2 separate regions of the Homo sapiens genome follow, and region 2 is linked to region 1. Evidence: fine-mapped expression QTL. Tissue or cell type: whole blood. Region 1 holds a variant in brackets; the other region holds the start of a gene. All regions are shown on one strand. Distances are between the middles of the regions.

What was found. PIP is the estimated chance that this variant, and not a neighbour inherited with it, causes the effect.
Region 2: GRK3 starts here. The variant in region 1 is fine-mapped to the expression of GRK3 in whole blood (INTERVAL, PIP 0.98).

What each region holds. Positions count from the first base shown.
Region 1 is chr22:25,321,749-25,329,852 of GRCh38, reverse strand. No RefSeq gene overlaps it. Among named protein-coding and RNA genes, the nearest start is that of CRYBB2, 110 kb to the right of the region's middle. The variant C/T (reference allele first, on the strand shown) is at 3,119.
Region 2 is chr22:25,560,648-25,568,751 of GRCh38, reverse strand. GRK3 (G protein-coupled receptor kinase 3) reads right to left here and starts at 4,077. Exons shown (of 21, transcript NM_005160.4): 1 at 3,599-4,077. The coding sequence starts at 3,711. GRK3-AS1 (GRK3 antisense RNA 1) reads left to right here and starts at 3,336. Exons shown (of 4, transcript NR_183564.1): 1 at 3,336-3,672; 2 at 4,393-4,662; 3 at 5,271-5,449; 4 at 7,254-7,864. RefSeq lists enhancers at 1,403-1,582, 2,865-3,380 and silencers at 3,492-3,741, 4,052-4,151.

The DNA.
Region 1 (8,104 bases):
TGTGAGAGCATCTCCTCACACCTCCTGCCCATTTGAAGGTCCAGGCCAATCCCCTCATTTTTCAAAATGTTACAAGACCATTTAATTCTGTGGATTTACATATCCTGCTACTACATTTATCACCTATCGTGTTTTACTTTTTAAATTATGGTGAAGCATACATATTATTTTAATTATTTAGTGTACATTTCAGTGAGATTGAATTCAGTGAACTACATTCATGACGCGGTGTCAATAATGAGAAAAATCTAAATTCATACTCTAAGCTTAAAAAACAATTCTTGCAGAAATCAATGGAATAGAAAACAGAAAATCATCCGAGAAAATCAATAAAACAAAAAGCCAGTTCTTTGAGATCAGTACCATTGATAAACCTCTACCTTGGCTAACCACAAAGGAAAGAAAGATGTTACAATGTACTAATAGCATCAATTGAAGAGCAGTTAAATCAAAAAATAATAAAGGAATATTCTGAACACATCTATGCCCACAATTTGATACATAGATGAAATGAGCTCATTCCTTTTTATCGATTTTAGAAGACCAAAAGTCTTCTGGGGAAAAATAGATCATCTGAATAGGCCTATATTTATTTTAGAAATTGAAGCAATGATTAATAATCTTTCAAAAGAAGGAAAAACCAAAAACACTACATTCATATGATTTCACTGGTTAAAAAAAAAAAAAAAAAATTCTACCAAAATTCTTTTTTGTTGTTGTTTTTTGCGACGCAGTTTTGCTCTGTCACCAAGCTGGAGTGCAGTGGCGCGAACTCGGCTCACTGCAACATCTGACTCCCTGGTTCAAGCGATTCTCCTGCCTCAGCCTCTCAAGTAGCTGGGATTACAGGCACAGGCCACCACGCCCAGCTGATTTTTGTATTTTTAGTGGAGGCGGGGTCTCGCCATGTTGGCCAGGATGGTCTTGATCTCCTGACCTCGTGATCACCCGCCTCAGCTTCCCAAAGTGCTGGGATTACAGGCGTGAGCCACCGTGCCCAGCCCCAAAATTCTTACAAAGAAAAACCTGGTCTTACCATACAAGCAAGTAATTATAATCCTAAGTATTTCCTTAGTTATATTTTGGAAACATAATTTTTAAACAAGACACAGCAAGGTTTTTAATAGCTATATTCATAATTGCCCAAAGTGAAAGCAAATATCTAAACATTTGAGGTGTCCTTTACTATTAAAAGTGAACCAAGCCTGGGCAACATGATGAAACCCCATCTATACAAAAAAAAAAAAATAGAAAAATTAGCTTGGCATGATGCCTTAGTGCCAGTTACTTGGGAGCCTGAGGTGGGGGGAACACCTGAACCTGAGGAGGTCAAGGTTGCAGTGAGCTGTCATTGCACCAATGCATTCCTGGGTGACAAAATGAGGCCTTGTCTCAAAAAATAATAATTTTGAATTTTGAATTTAAGAAATCTCCAGCCGGGCGCAGTGGCTCACGCCTGTAATCCCAACACTTTGGAAGGCCGAGGCAGGTGGATCATGAGGTCAGGAGATAGAGACCATCCTGGCTAACACGGTGAAACCCACCTGTACTAAAAATACAAAAAATTAGCCAGGTGTGGTGGCACGTGCCTGTAGTCCCAGCTACTCAGGAGGCTGAGGCAGAAGAATTGCTTGAACCCGGGAGGCAGAAGTGGCAGTGAGCTGAGATCATGCCTCTGCCCTCCAGCCTGGACAACAGAGTGAGACTCCATCTCAAAAAAAAAAAAACAAAAAATCCAAATATTTGGGCCTGAATTATCCCAATTATTAGCTACTTTAAGGGTTGGGAGAAAAGTAACAATCTGACCCTTAGCTGGTTCCTTCATTTAGGTACCAAACCGGCCGGATAGGTGAGGCTAGAGAATGGGATGGGGACTCCAAAATTGGGGTATTTGAATTTTCATTGAGAAAAGGGAGAGACTAGATCAAAAAAGCCTCAATGTCTAAGGCAAGAGGCAGAGCCAGCCTTTGTCCCCCATGCCCAGACCTGGGAAAGCTGGCTATGGACAGGAGGGAGCTGGAAGCTGAGGATGTCTCTGGGGATGAGGGTAAGGGAAGGGGGTGGGGGTGGCCAGAGGTGTGCCAGAGGGTAAACGGCACCCGTGGCTTTTTTACCTGTGGGCATCTTTTGGTTGCTGATGTGCTGCAGGTCTTGGCCCTCCGTGGCTCCCACATCCAGCTTGCCAGGCTCTACGGTAGTGGATTCTGATGTTGCAGCAGCCACGGCCTCATAAATATCAGATTCATAACTGGATGCTGCCTTCCCCCTGGGCCAGCCACAGTCGGAGCTGACTTTGGGGCACACACGACAGGTCAGTATATTCCCCGTGGGGCACCTACACTCCTCTCCACTCCTGCCTGAGCCTTCGATGAAATTGTAACTGTGCTGCCCTAGCAGCCACACTACTGAGGGTGGCCCTGCACTTGTAGAAGCAGCCTGACCCCAGGCAGATCTGGGGCCTCAGCCCGTAGTCTGCCGCCACCTCCCAAACTGGATGGTCTATGAGGTCGGGGACCTACTGTTTTACCTCAAAAAGAAACACGACAAGCGCCAAGAGGCACAAAAACTGCCGTCAAAGAGCACAGTCGGAGCTCCTCCTCCCTCCACTGCCAGCTACCGACTGAGGGCTGCTGGCCTGGCTAATGCCTATAACCCACAAAGCTTCCTATGTCACCTGGTTACCAGGAAACAGGTCAGGCTAGTGACTCACCATGTCCAGCCCCACAGCCCCCCCAGTGCCTCACAATGCCCATCCCAGCTGCTGCCCACCTTGTGGCACCCCTGCCCCTCCATGGGGACTGCACTACTCAGGCTTTTATTCACCCTGTGCGGCCTGAGCTTTCCAGAACTAAGCAAAGTGCAGGGGGGGATTGTTATTGGAAGTCACCCTTGGCAAGAAACTCAATAGAAAACCCTGGCACGGCCGGGCACGGTGGCTCACGCCTGTAATCCTAGCACTTTGGGAGGCTGATGGGGGAGGATCACCCGAGATCAGGAGTTCGAGACCAGCCTGGCTAACATGGTGAAACCCCATCTCTACCAAAAATACAAAACATTAGCTCGGCGTGGTGGCAGGCACCTGTCATCCTAGCTACTCTGGAAGCTGAGGCAGGAGAGT[C/T]GCTTGAATCCAGGAGGTGGAGGTTGCACAGTGAGCTGAGATCGCGCCATTGCACTCCAGCCTGGGTGACAGGGTTGAAACTCTCTCAAAAAAAATAAAATAAAATAAAATAAAATAAAGAAAACCCCAGTTACTAAAGTCAGTTCCACCAGCATTTCTGTTTTTGAGTCTGACAGCTTTCATTTGCTCACCAAATGTAGTTATACACAAGTTTTTGACTGCTTTTGTAACTAAATGCTTCTCTCCTGTCTTACAAGTGTTAGTTCTTGTCTGCAACTTGACCATAGCTACCCCCAGGGCCCTGGTCCCACTCTCAATAGAGAGTTATGGCTGTGTATCCTCAGTGAAACCCTGGGACACATCACACTTCCCTCCTCGTCTATAAAATAGGGACTGAACACATCCTTCCCAGTTCTGTAATGCTAGGACGTACCAACTCCCTTTTCTCGCTGTTTCTTCTTTCCATGGCAGGGGTATTCAGATATTTCTTTTATTTACTTTTTATTTATTTTTTGAGATGGGAGTGTCACTCTGTTGACCAGGCTGGGGTGCAGTGGCACGACCTCGGCTCACTGCAGCCTCCACCTCCCAGGTTCAAGTGATTCTCCAGCCTCAGCCTCCCGAGTAGCTGGGACTACAGGCATGCACCACCGCATCTGGCTAATTTTTGTATTTTTAGTAGAGATGAGAGTTTCACCATGTTGGTCAGGCTGGTCTTGAACTCCTGACCTCAGGTGATCCACCTGACTCAGCCTCCCAAAGCGCTGGGATTACAGGTGTGAGCCACCACGGCCAGCCTCAGGTATTTCTTTTACTAATAATGCATAAAACATTATTTTCTTATACAAAATTAAGAACCACACAGTGGGGTACCATTGTCCTCATTTGATAAAGATGAATAGTCAACATCTGGCAAGCATTATGTGTCTGACACTGTTCCAACTGTGGCCTACTAATTTAACCTTCAGAAACAGTCGCATTTTATAGATTTTGGAGAATAAATCTAGATGGAAAAGTCAAGTAACTTCCCCAAAGTCCCACGACTGCTCAAGGTGGGGCCAGATTTTAATCCTGAGGAGTCTTGATCCCCACAAGATGACTGTGGTTATCAGAAAGTAAAGGTAGAAGTCAAGCATGGAGGGGAAGTGACATTGTAGATTAGTTTATTTTAAGAAAAATGGCTGGGCGCGGTGGCTCACAGCTGTAATCCTAGCACTTTGGGAGGCCCAGGTGGGTGGATCACGTGAGGTCAGGAGTTTGAGACCAGCTGGGGCAACATGGCAAAACCCCATCTCTACTAAAAATACAAAAAATAGCTGGGCGTGGTGGCACATGCCTGTAATCCCAGCTACTCAGAAGGCTGAGGCAGGAGAATCACTTGAACCCAGGAGGCAGAGGTTGCAGTGAGCTGAGATTGTGCCACTGCACTCCAGCCTGGGCAACAGAGCGAGACTCCATCTCAAAAAACAACAAAAAAATGTTTTTTATGTGGATTTTTAAATTCCTCCCTTTCATTCAACATTAAATCCCTTCTAAGGGTGAGGCACTTCATGGTCCTGAAACAGTCCCAACACTCAGTGAGTTCAGGCAGATGAGCAAACCAAGGCTTAGAGAGTTCAGTTGTGTAAGACTACACTGCTGGGCAGTGAATGAACCTGGAATACAAAGACTCATTCACTGTCCAGCAGTAGAGTTTAAGTAGAGTTTAAATTTTATTCTAGCAACATGAGAGTCACGGAACCACATAGAGATGAGGAGTCTCTATCAGACGTGTTTGCAGTGAGGTCTCTCTGCACAACAGAGAAGGACTCATGGAAGCAATGGGACCAATTAAGAGACATTATGTTGGGAGGCTGAGGTGGGTGGAACATTTGAGGTCAGGAGTTCGAGACCAGCCTGGCCAACATGGTGAAACCCCATGTCTACTAAAAATACAAAAATTAGCCTGGCATGGTGGCGGGCACCTGTATGTAGTCCCATCTACTCGAGGGGCTGAGGCAGGAGAATCACTTGAACCCGAGAGGTGGAGGTTGCAGTGAGCCAAGATCACACCATTGAACTCCAGCCTAGGCGACAGAGAGAGATTCTGTCTCAAAAAAAAGAGAGAGAGACACTATGTTCATCTGGGAGAACAGATAAGGCCAAAGGCAGAGGAAATGACTGAAGTGGACGGAAAAGTTTTGTGTTCATTTGGGAGAGAGAACAGGTAGTGCTAGAGGATTAGATGTGGAAGAACAGGGGAAGGAAAAGGAAAAACAGGCTGCTAAGGCTCTAGTTTGAAGGACTGGGTAAATATCAGTGACTTTCTCCTACACAGACAATGTAGGAAGAGGAATAGGTATGGGGAATAAGATAGTTTTGGGCCAGACACGGTGACTCACGCCTGTAATCCCAGCACTTTGGGAGGCCGAGCTGGGTGGATCATGAGGTCAGGAGTTCGAGACCAGCCTGGCCAACATGGTGAAACCCAGTCTCTACTAAAAATACAAAAATTAGCCAGGCACAATGGCAGGTACCTGTAATACCAGCTACTCGGGAGGCTGAGGCAGGAGAATCCCTTGAACCTGGGAGGCGGAGCTTGCAATGAGCCGAGATCATGCCACTGCACTCCAGCCTGGGTGACAGAGTGAGACTCCGTCTCAAAAAAAAAAAAAAAAAAAAAAGATAGTTCTGGACTCTTAAGTATCGCACTGAAATGGAGCTCTCTGCTTGAAAGTTGGATAGAAACCTCTGTAGGCTAAGTCCATTCTATGACATCACAACTCATGTTTTAAAAAATAACACACACGTTAAGTCAAACCATTAACGAAATTTCCTAACATTTACATACAAAGAATATGACAATTTTTTAGTTATTACTTTCTTAGAGCAACTCTGAATTTATGATCATGGTGAATGAGGTGTCATGTAAAATAAAGCTGTTATATAAAAACAACATTTAAATTTTATTCTCATCAGAGCATATAGAAAACAATTGAAGCCATGGGTATGGCAGGGATTGCTTTAAAAAGCTGTGTCTAATAAGGGGAGTTGGAAAGAAAAGAGATGTGGGGGCCAGGCACGGTGGCTCATGCCTGTAATCCCAAAACTTTGGGAGGCCTAGGCAGGCGGATCACCTGAGGTCAGGAGGAGTTCAAGACCAGCCTGGCCAACATGACAAAACCCCGTCTCTACTAAAAATACAAAAATTAGCGGGCATGTTGGTGGGCACTTGTAATCCCAGCTATTCGGGAGGCTGAGGCAGGAGAACTGCTTGAACCCAGGGGATGGATGTTGCAGTGAGCCGAGATGGTGCCACTGCACTCCAGCCTGGGTGACAGAGCAAGAATCTGTCTAGCAAAAAAAAAAGAAAAAAGAAAGGAGACTTGGGGAACAGGGAGATTTAAGTGGCATTAAGTAAAGCCTGCAAATGTAAGCAGTGAGTGTCAAGGTACCTCACTGTTCATCAGAAATGGCTGATCGAGTGAGTCTCATCACAATGGAGCTGGTGTCTGCTTCTGATTTCTGTAATGGCCACACCTAGCACAGTACCTGGTCAATAGGGACTCAATACCTGATACCCCAATGAACAGAGTAAAATTCTGCCAGTTCAAAAACACATCCATACCCACCAACTTCTCTCGTGGAGTTTTACTTCTTTCACTTACTGTAATGTTTTGAAGTTCATCCCTCCTGTGACCTGTATCCATAGTTTCTTTTCCTTGTGTAACTGAGCAGTACTCCACTGTATGCACAGACCATATGGGTCTATCCATTCTCTAGCTGACGGACACTTGGGTTGTTTCCAGTTGCTGCCTATAGTGAATGAGGCTGCTGAGAACATTTATGTACACGTCTTTTTGGAACACATGCTTTCATTTCTTCTAGACAAATTCTTAGGGCTGGAATTGCTAGGTCAAATGGCTAGTTCATGCTTAACTTCTTTTTCTTGCCTTTCTTATTAATAGAAAAGAATATACTGATACATGATATTGGAAATATCTTTTTTTTTTTTTGAGGTGGAGTATTGCTTTGTCATCTAGGCTGGAGTGCAGTGGCGCAATCTCGGCTCACTGCAAGCTCTGGCTGCTGGGTTCACACCATTCTCCTGCCTCAGCCTCCCAAGTAGCTGGAACTACAGGTGCCCGCCACCATGCTCAGATAATTTTTTTGTATTTTTAGTAGAGACGGGGTTTCACCATGTTAACCAGGATGGTCTCGATCTCCTGACCTCATGATCCGCCCGCCTCGGCCTCCTAAAGTGCTGGGATTACAAGTGTGAGCCACCAGACTCGGCCTATATTGGACATTTCTGAGTTACATGTGCTGTTTGGTTCTGTGCATCCACCGTGTCATCATCAAGTCAGGATATTTGGGGTATGGCTTCAGTATTTATCATTTCTATGTGTTGAGTATATTTCAGTTCTCTCTTGTGGCTATTTTGAAATATACAATACATTATTGCTAACCATAGTCACCCTACTCTGCTATCCAACATTAGAACACATTCCTTGCATCTAACTGTAAGTGTGTATTCATTGACCAACCTCTCTGCATTCCCTTCTTATACCCAGAGAAGGAGAGAGGAAGGAAGGAAAGGAGCTGTGGTTGGGCTGAATTAGGGCCCAGGGACGGCTGTGTCCCAGTCCCGGGACCTGTCCATGTGCTGTGTTGTGTGGCCTCAGGGACTTTACAGATGTGATGATGTCAAGGGGCCTGAGGTGGAAGATGATCCTGGGTTATGTGGGTGGGTCCAAGGTGGGGTCTTTATAAGGGAAAGGAGGAGGCAGGAGGGTCAGAGTGACAGCAGGTGTGGGGCTGGAGGACAAGAAAGGGAGAGAAGGAGGGAGGGTGAGAGAAGGCGGTGGGGAGAGAGAGAGAGAGAGAGAGAGAAGAGTGGGAGAGATTTGAAGATGCTGGCTCTGGCTTTGAAGTTGGAGGAAAGGGCCAGGAGCCCAGGGCATCCTCTAGAAGCTGGAAAAATCCTGGACACGGATTCTCTCCGTA
Region 2 (8,104 bases), 240 kb before region 1:
AATAAAATCTTCAAGCAAATACACTTCAAAGCAAACATCCTTCTTGGCTCAAATCTTTGTATTTCACACTAGTCTATAAGCTCCATGAAGGAAGGGGCTGTGGCTGGGTTTGTCATAGTACCCCGTGCCTGGCTCATAGAAATGGCTCTACAACTATGTACTGAATTAATGTCATAAACGGTATCATAAATGTCCTTTAAGGACTGTCAGTGCTCCTAGAAAATTATAAAGAATCTTTAAAATGTTGTTTCAGACCTTCCTATCATATTGTATGAATACTTTGAAAGGACAAGCTTTGCAATAGGTGATCCAACATTTGAAATGTCCAGTAAATAGAAATAAGACTCCAGGGGAAAGATGAAGTTCACATTACTCAACCGCCTTCAACTATATGTGATTTCAAGTCATCTGAATTTCATTCTGTTTTTTTTAAAAAAAAAAGAGTAACAGAGTAATACAGCCTACAGTAAAAGTCGTCTGAATCACTCCAGGGCTTAAGATGATGACCCTTTGTGGGCCTTTGCTTGTGAATTAGACCTTACTTAAATAAAAGTATTTCTTTTCCAACATGATGTAAAACAACTGGCCTGCACATCTAAATGCTCCTGTTTTAACTGGGCCTGCAAGGGAGGCTGTGGGTCACAGTTTACTACTCCCAGTAGGCCCCATTATCAGCTACATTAGCTCAACAACATTTCAGTAAACTAAAGCAGCTATACCATTTGGACAAACAGTCAGCTTTTCCAGGATTTGCACTCATTGGTTGGTTAACTGAATAAAGTGTCAACATAACAAAATATTTGCCTCTTGCCATCTCAGGGAAGCAAAATCTCCCCTGGGCAGAATGTTCCATTTTCTGAGACTCTCCTGTAATAGGCAGGAAGCTGCAAACCCAGTGTTTCATTTAAATTAGCTAGATATTTCGTTCTGATGCTCTTCTGTTTAAAACTGTGGGAAAGGCAAAGTAACTAAAATAAGGAAGCACAAAGAATAGTGACTGCAAATAATTTGCTGGAAATAAAAAAATCACTAGTGATAGACCAAAGGCAAATTAAAATGTATGCTTCTCATTCAGATACCAAAAATACAAATCTGAACATCTCTTTCAAGAATACCAAAAACTGGTGATCACATGGCTTCCTCTATAATGAAGCTGAAATAGAAACTTATCAGAAAACATTTGACCCGTATCCCTTTTACCAATAGTGTGAAGTCATACCAGCTATTTAAGTCATTAGGCTGGGGCATTTTAACATGCAATTAACTTTTTTACAGGATCTAGAAATTCCCCAACCCCCAACCTCCAAATCAAATAGGTAGGCCACTAACTGCCATCCAGTGGTAGAGAGAATTTTGCAAGATGTTATACCTGATAATCTCAATGTAACAGAATCCTAACACAGCACAAGGAGTGACTGTTACTATGTAAATAGCTACATTACAAAACTAAAGCCAAAGCCACTAAGATAAGTAGAAAACAAATTAGAATCTCAGGAGGAGGTTCCAATGGCCCAATTCGAGAGTCTATTTTAAAAAGAGCAACAGAGTAACAATTACTGAAGGGCTGTTTCCTAAAATTACTCTCTGGTTGGTATTTCTCAATTTTCAAATGTCATGAGAAATAATGCTGGCTGTCACTTACTCTGCCTTAAAAGAAAGCATTACCAAAGAATACCACTGAAAAACAAAGGCATTCATACAAGGAAGTGAACACCCTAAGTGCATAAGTACGTTCTTAAGAGGGACACTAAAAAAGCAGAAGTCACATTAAGTTCCAAACACCAAGAAAAAAAAAACTGAACAGAAGTTCCTAACTTTATTAATATTATATACTAGCCCCCCCCAAAAAAAAAACTGCCCATGAGTTGAGATTTATCAATTTTGTATATAGAAATACTACATATTTAGGACTCCCTGCCTTTGGGTGGTGGAGGGACACTAGGAAAGGCAAGACAAAAGAGGAATTAAGCCTTTTTCTACCACATTAGAAATGTACAGTTTTTTTGGTGAAATTTAGGTTTGATGTAGGCGTTCTTGTTCTCTAAGTAAGTTTCCCATTTGCCGGAAATTTTAAGCAGCATTGATTTTTTTCAATTAGCTTCAGATATGCTACACTCTGGAATAGGGGTGTTAAACTCACGACATTGCAGAAAGGTTTGCACTTTTCCCTCATTTTCACTACTTGGCATTGTCTATCAAAGAGTAGCACATCCTGCAAAACCAACAAGAGGCATGGGCTAAGGAGGAAAAGCAAGCTCAAAATACCTAGCAAGCATGTCTTCATTTGCACAATTTAGCTTTTCACAACAAATAACAAGGGGACTGGTATTTTCTGTATCATAGGGCTCATGGATGACTTGTAAAAAAAATCAGATGATGATCACTTAGCATTAGGTAACATTTAAGCAATCTTGGGCGCCTAACGCTTGAAGGACTGATGATTTCAAATGGACAATAACTTTGGTTTAGATTCCAATATTTTACAGAATTGCATGGTTTCAAATTCACCATAAACAAGATGCCTCTTTTGAGCATCAATTCCAAGAGCTATTTAGCATCAAGGAATCACATTAGCTGTACAACTCATGATGGTGTTAATTAGGAAAGGAGCTAGAGAAAAAAAAATCCATCACTGAAGCCTTGATACGTTATTTAAAACTCACTATTAACCAGACAAACTATTTTTTCTGGGGAAGTGCTAATGATATGAACTAGAAAAAATTTTACTAGTACCTTAATAATAAATCATTTGAGAGAAAATTGCAACTTGGTATGCACCTCACCGAGCCCCTCGCCAATTCAATCGGGCCCTCCTTTGATAATTTAACAACAAATTCCTGTCTGGAATCACCCATTCAAGTGTCTTTTTAAGTGACTCCTGTTTCAATTTTTTAATAAAGTGCCACCAGTAGATCTACAAGTTGAGGAAAGCAGCTCAGGTGACACACTTGGCACCAAAAAGAATACTGAGTGGGTCAAAATCCTGCCCGGGGACAAAATAGAAGAGAAGCCGAAGAAGGTGACTAGACTTAATAGACTTCAAGAAGAGCAAGTACTGAAAACAGCAGTTTAACTACCTCGGACAATAAGCAACAAGCCTGCAGTCCCCAGGTAAGCGGCCCAGAGGGAGGTGAGAGGATGGAGTTGGAAAGGGGGACCAATGAGCCCGGGAAGAAGGAGCGACCAGGATGGAGCGCAAAGCAGTGACAGGCAAGGAGCCAACGGGGACTACACCAATGCAACAGGAAGAACCACGGGGATGGGACAGGGCAGGACAGGACAGGGCTGGGGGGAGGGGGCGACAGGGATGGAGCTGGTCCAGCCAAGTCATAACCAGACCCTGGCTGGGGCGCTCGCTGCGCGCAGGGCGCCGCGCCGGGCACTTTGGAGCGCTCTCTCCCGGGGTGCCCCCCACCGGCCCTCCGATGCCCCATTTCAGAGACTGGAACGACGAGGCCGGCCCCGCATCGCCCGCTCCGCTGTGTCACCCGCCCCGGGGCAGCGGAGGCTCAGCGCCCGACCCTCCAGGAAGCAGGGGGTAGCTGGCGGCCGCAGGGGGCGGCGGCTTGGGGCCGGCGCCGGCCGGGGCAGCTGGTACCTGGGCTCCGGCAGGACGATCCTCTTGCTGGCGCGGGCGGCCGGGGTCGCCTTGCTCTTCTCCATGGCCATCAGGTAACTGACATCGGCCAGCACAGCCTCCAGGTCCGCCATGTTGGCGAGCTTTGGCGGCGGCGGCGGCGGTTACTCCGGACCTGGACGGGACGCGCGCCCGCCGCCGCCGCCCGCCGCGCCCCGACCTGGGGGGGCCGCCCCGGGGCAGCCCCCCCCTCCGCGCGCCCCCGCCCCGCGCGCGCGCCGCGCGCCCCACTAGCGCTCTGCGCGCGCCGCAGGCTGTAGCCGGCCGGGGTCGCAGCACGCCTCCCCGCTCCGCCCCCTCGCGCGCCGCCCGGCGCCCCGCGCACGCGCGCCGCCCCCTGCTCCTTCAGCGAGGGTCTGCGGGGAGCGCGCGTCCAACGGTCAGCGCCCCTCAGTGCACAGTCCCAGCGGCCTCGCTGGGCCGGCGCCTCCCGACCAAGTCTCTACGGTCGCCCTCCCCTCGGGGTGGCCACGAGGGACTCCTCCTCCTCTTCCTCCTCCCCTCCCTCCCCCTCGGTCTCCGCCTCCTCCTTCTCCTCCTCCTTCACTGCCCCGACCTCCCGCCCCAGGTTCCACGCGCTCTGATGCCCGCCCCGCTCACCCAGAGAAGCCCTGGGCCAGACGTCCACAACCCAAGGGGTTATGGGGAGGCCTCTGCTCCCTGGACACAGTAGTTCTCAAACTGGACAGTGTCAATCAGCATCCTCCGGGAGGTCTGGGGTGGCCCCGGAAATACATGTGTCCCACCTATCCCAGCAGGTAATGATGAAACTCCTGCTCTGGTCCGGGCTACCGGTGAACAGCGCCCAGCGGGCCGGGCCCCCAACCTCGCTCCTGAGCCTGAACATCCCCCCAACCCCACCGTGAGAATTCAGCGAAGAGTAAAAGCTGGAAAAAGTTGCGTGTCTTAGGCTAAGCAGAACAAAGTGGGGTGACGGCTCCCCGGCTAGGAACAGAGATGCCCTTAGGGAGCCCTCTGATGGAAGAGCTCTCCGCTTAAGAAGGTCACCACTCCCTTACACTCAGGTGAGAGGTTTTAGTTTGGGTGTTGAAATGGTGTTGAGAAATAGAAGGAGAGAGAGTATTCCTGTCGTTAGGGTTTTACGGTCAATACAAGAGACAATTAGGGAGCATCTGCTGCGAGCACACTCGCACCACGAGGGTGATTTAGGGAAGTGGAAAAGCGAGATACAGCCCAAACACCGAAGCTGGGGGGAATTTCCAGCTTCCTGATCTTCGGTCTCGGTGTCTTTCATCATCACTCCACCCCGATGCCTGGGGTTTTCAGTTGCTTATTTTTCTACAGTGTGCACACAAGTCCGCATTCAGGATCCATGTGACACTCAGGCTGGAGTGGTGGTAAGGGACACGCAGGCAGTCTTAGGAAGACCTAAGCTGGAAATTAATGTTTTAAAATCCCTTTCATTCACCTGAATTGGTCACGTATTTCCATGAGCCTAGACGTTGCTAGAATTTGAGTGAACGTTCTGTCCATAACTTACAGGGTTAACGGGACCCACCAGATACAGTTAAGGTCAAATTTCAGATATTTCATGTAATGTCATTGCAGAAGCAGCCTGATTCTGTCATCAAATAGCCTGTTTCCCTCTTTTGTTTTCTCTCCCACGCCACAGCCCCCCTCAATCTGATTCCCTGCTATGCCTGCCATCACCACTGGCCAGTTTTACCACATGCTTCTCAAGACCCAAGGCACAATAGGCATAAAGTTGTCCTGAAAAGGACAAGAGGAGTGTCAGAAGTAGGAATGGCAGTTGAAGGAGCTTCGTCTGCCAGCAGAAAGCTGAAATGACAGGCAAGCACAAAATATATTAAGGAGACAAAGCTATGCATGAGCGAAATATCAAACTTTCATCTTCTACCCACTTTTTTTTTTTTTTTTTGCTTAAAAACAGGAAGACAGAATGTCTTGTCAAGGGTCACCCCAGGAGGAGGAGTAAATTCCCCAAAAAGCGGAACATATTTTTATGATTTAATTAATACAATTTCTCTCAATGTGTCTGTTTATCATTTGAGCATCCACATGATCAGACCTGACATCTGCCTACATTTTCTTGGTCGTCTTTGACTTCAGTTAAGAACCTTTTGCTCTTTGTTTTCCCCCAGCAGCACAGTATATTAAGTTTGGAACAAGACACACCTGAAATCAAATCCCTGCTCTGTGCTGGGTGATCTTAGAGGCAGTCTTTTACCTCTTTCTACTTTATTGTTCTCATAGGAAAAGTGGAAATGAGGCCTTTTACCCCAGGGTTGTTGAGAAGACAGAGGAGAAAAAGCACATAAAAATGCACCTTGTCGGGCGTGGGGCTCACACCTGTAATCCCAGCACTTTGGGAGGCTGAGGCAGGTGTATCGCTTGAGGCCAGGAGTTCAAGACCAGCCTGGCCAACAGGAAAAATACATTAAAAATAATGTCTCTATTAAAAATACAAAAATTAGCCAGGTATGGTGGTGCACGCCTGTAATCCCAGCTACTCAGGAGGCTGAGGCAGAAGAATCGCTTGAACCCAGGAAGCGAAAGCTGCAGTGAGTCGAGATCGCAGCACTGGGCAGGCACAGTGGCTCACACCTGTAATCCCAGTACTTTGGGAGGCTGAGGTGGGTGGATCACAAGGTCAGGAGATGGAGACCATCCTGGCTAACACGATGAAACTGTATCTCTACTAAAAATACAAAAACAAAATAAGCTGGGCGTGGTGGCGGGCGCCTGTAGTCCCAGCTACCTGGGAGGCTGAGGCAGGAGAATGGCAGGAACCCGGGAGGCAGAGCTTGCCGTCAGCCAAGATTGCACTGCTGCACTCCAGCCTGGGCAAGAGAGCAAGACCCTGTCTCAAAAAAAAAAAAAAAAAAAAAAAAAGCATTTTGCCTGGCACCCAGTAGATCCTCAATAAAGGTCATGGCACTTCCTCTATTTATTTTGCTTCATTTTACCCTGGCATGCTAGAGAAGATACTGAAACTAGTTGTTCACAGTCATTACACTTGAAGCAGGAAGACCCCTTACCAAAAATAACATCTCCCTAGGGCATTTCTAGGAACCAAAATGGCAAAAACATTTGCATCTATAAACATGAGCAATTACTCTTTTGGCAGAAAGACCAAGGAGTCCAAAATTTGGTCCTCTAACTGAGGCCCCTACACCATTTGAGTCAGCTGACTCAATTACCCAGGGGTATTTTTTTCTGGTGTTCATAGTGTATGAATTTCTGTTCCCTGGCTGTCTCTTTGGTTGTCTCACTTTCTCCACCCCCTCTTCTTTCCCTTTTTCTTGACTCTCTTGATACTGAACAGCTTTTTGTGTTCACTGCAAACAAAAGGGGTTAATGACAGTGATGATGAAGTTGTCATAACTGACCTGCTGGATCCTGTTACTAAACACCATCCCCAGCCTGTAATCATCACAAAGAACAGAAAAAACAAATAGCAACCCATTTGTACTTAGCTAATAATGCTCCCTTGCAAATAATTATGTCTCCCACCCCCAGAGGATTTAAATGACTTGGGGCTCACGCTGCTTGTGATAATAGACAAAACTCCAGCGTTCCCACAAGATTAATAATGTTCCCTTTTCTTCTTTTCTATGCCTTTCCATCGTTACAGGAGATGTTGCTGAGATGGGTGCATTAAAGTTTAGGCTTTCCAGAGTTTATATTGCTAACAACTTGAAAGGAAAAAAGCTAACTAGAGAACTGACTGGTCTTATTTGTTTTAGATTCTGGGCTTTACTAAGACTTCCTACTCTCAGAATCTCTGGACTATAAACGCTGGGTGGGGTGGGAGCTGGGAATGTTATTCTGGAAAATTAATCACAAATGAAAAGAAAATCAACTCTAAGACTCCAGTTAGAAGATTTTTGAAAATGGCAGAACATGACTGGCCTTCATTCAAGTCAGAATATTTAAAGCAATCCTTGCTAAGAAGAACTTGATTTTGTATAAGCAGTCCCTTAAATACAGTTGCTTCTCAAGAAAACCACACACAATTGATGTTTGAATGGCTTTATTTACAAACATCTCACTCCGTAAGCCTCTGCAGGTATTTCTAGCCTCCCAGGGGCCACTGTCCCGTTTCACCTGTAATTTGGATCACAATTCTGTTTGTTGTCACACACATCATATGAACTGCTTTTCATGCTGCTTTTATCCACAAAGCTTTACAAGCTTTAATGGCAGCTCTATGTATGACAACTTTATAAAGATCTGCCAAAAGGTATGATGCCAAGCTTTGCTTTTATTAAACTATTAGCTATTAGCACTGAAACGATGTTCAGTAGAGAAGTACTCTCCTTTCAATATGTGAGTGGAAACACATTTCTCTATGGGGACTGCTGGTCAGGGACTCACTCTAAAGAAAAGCCACAGTGTTGTGGTTCAGAGCATGGGCTCAAAAGACAAATGGATAAGAAGCCCAAGACCAGTCCTTCTGAGCTGTGTGACCTTAGACAAGTTGTC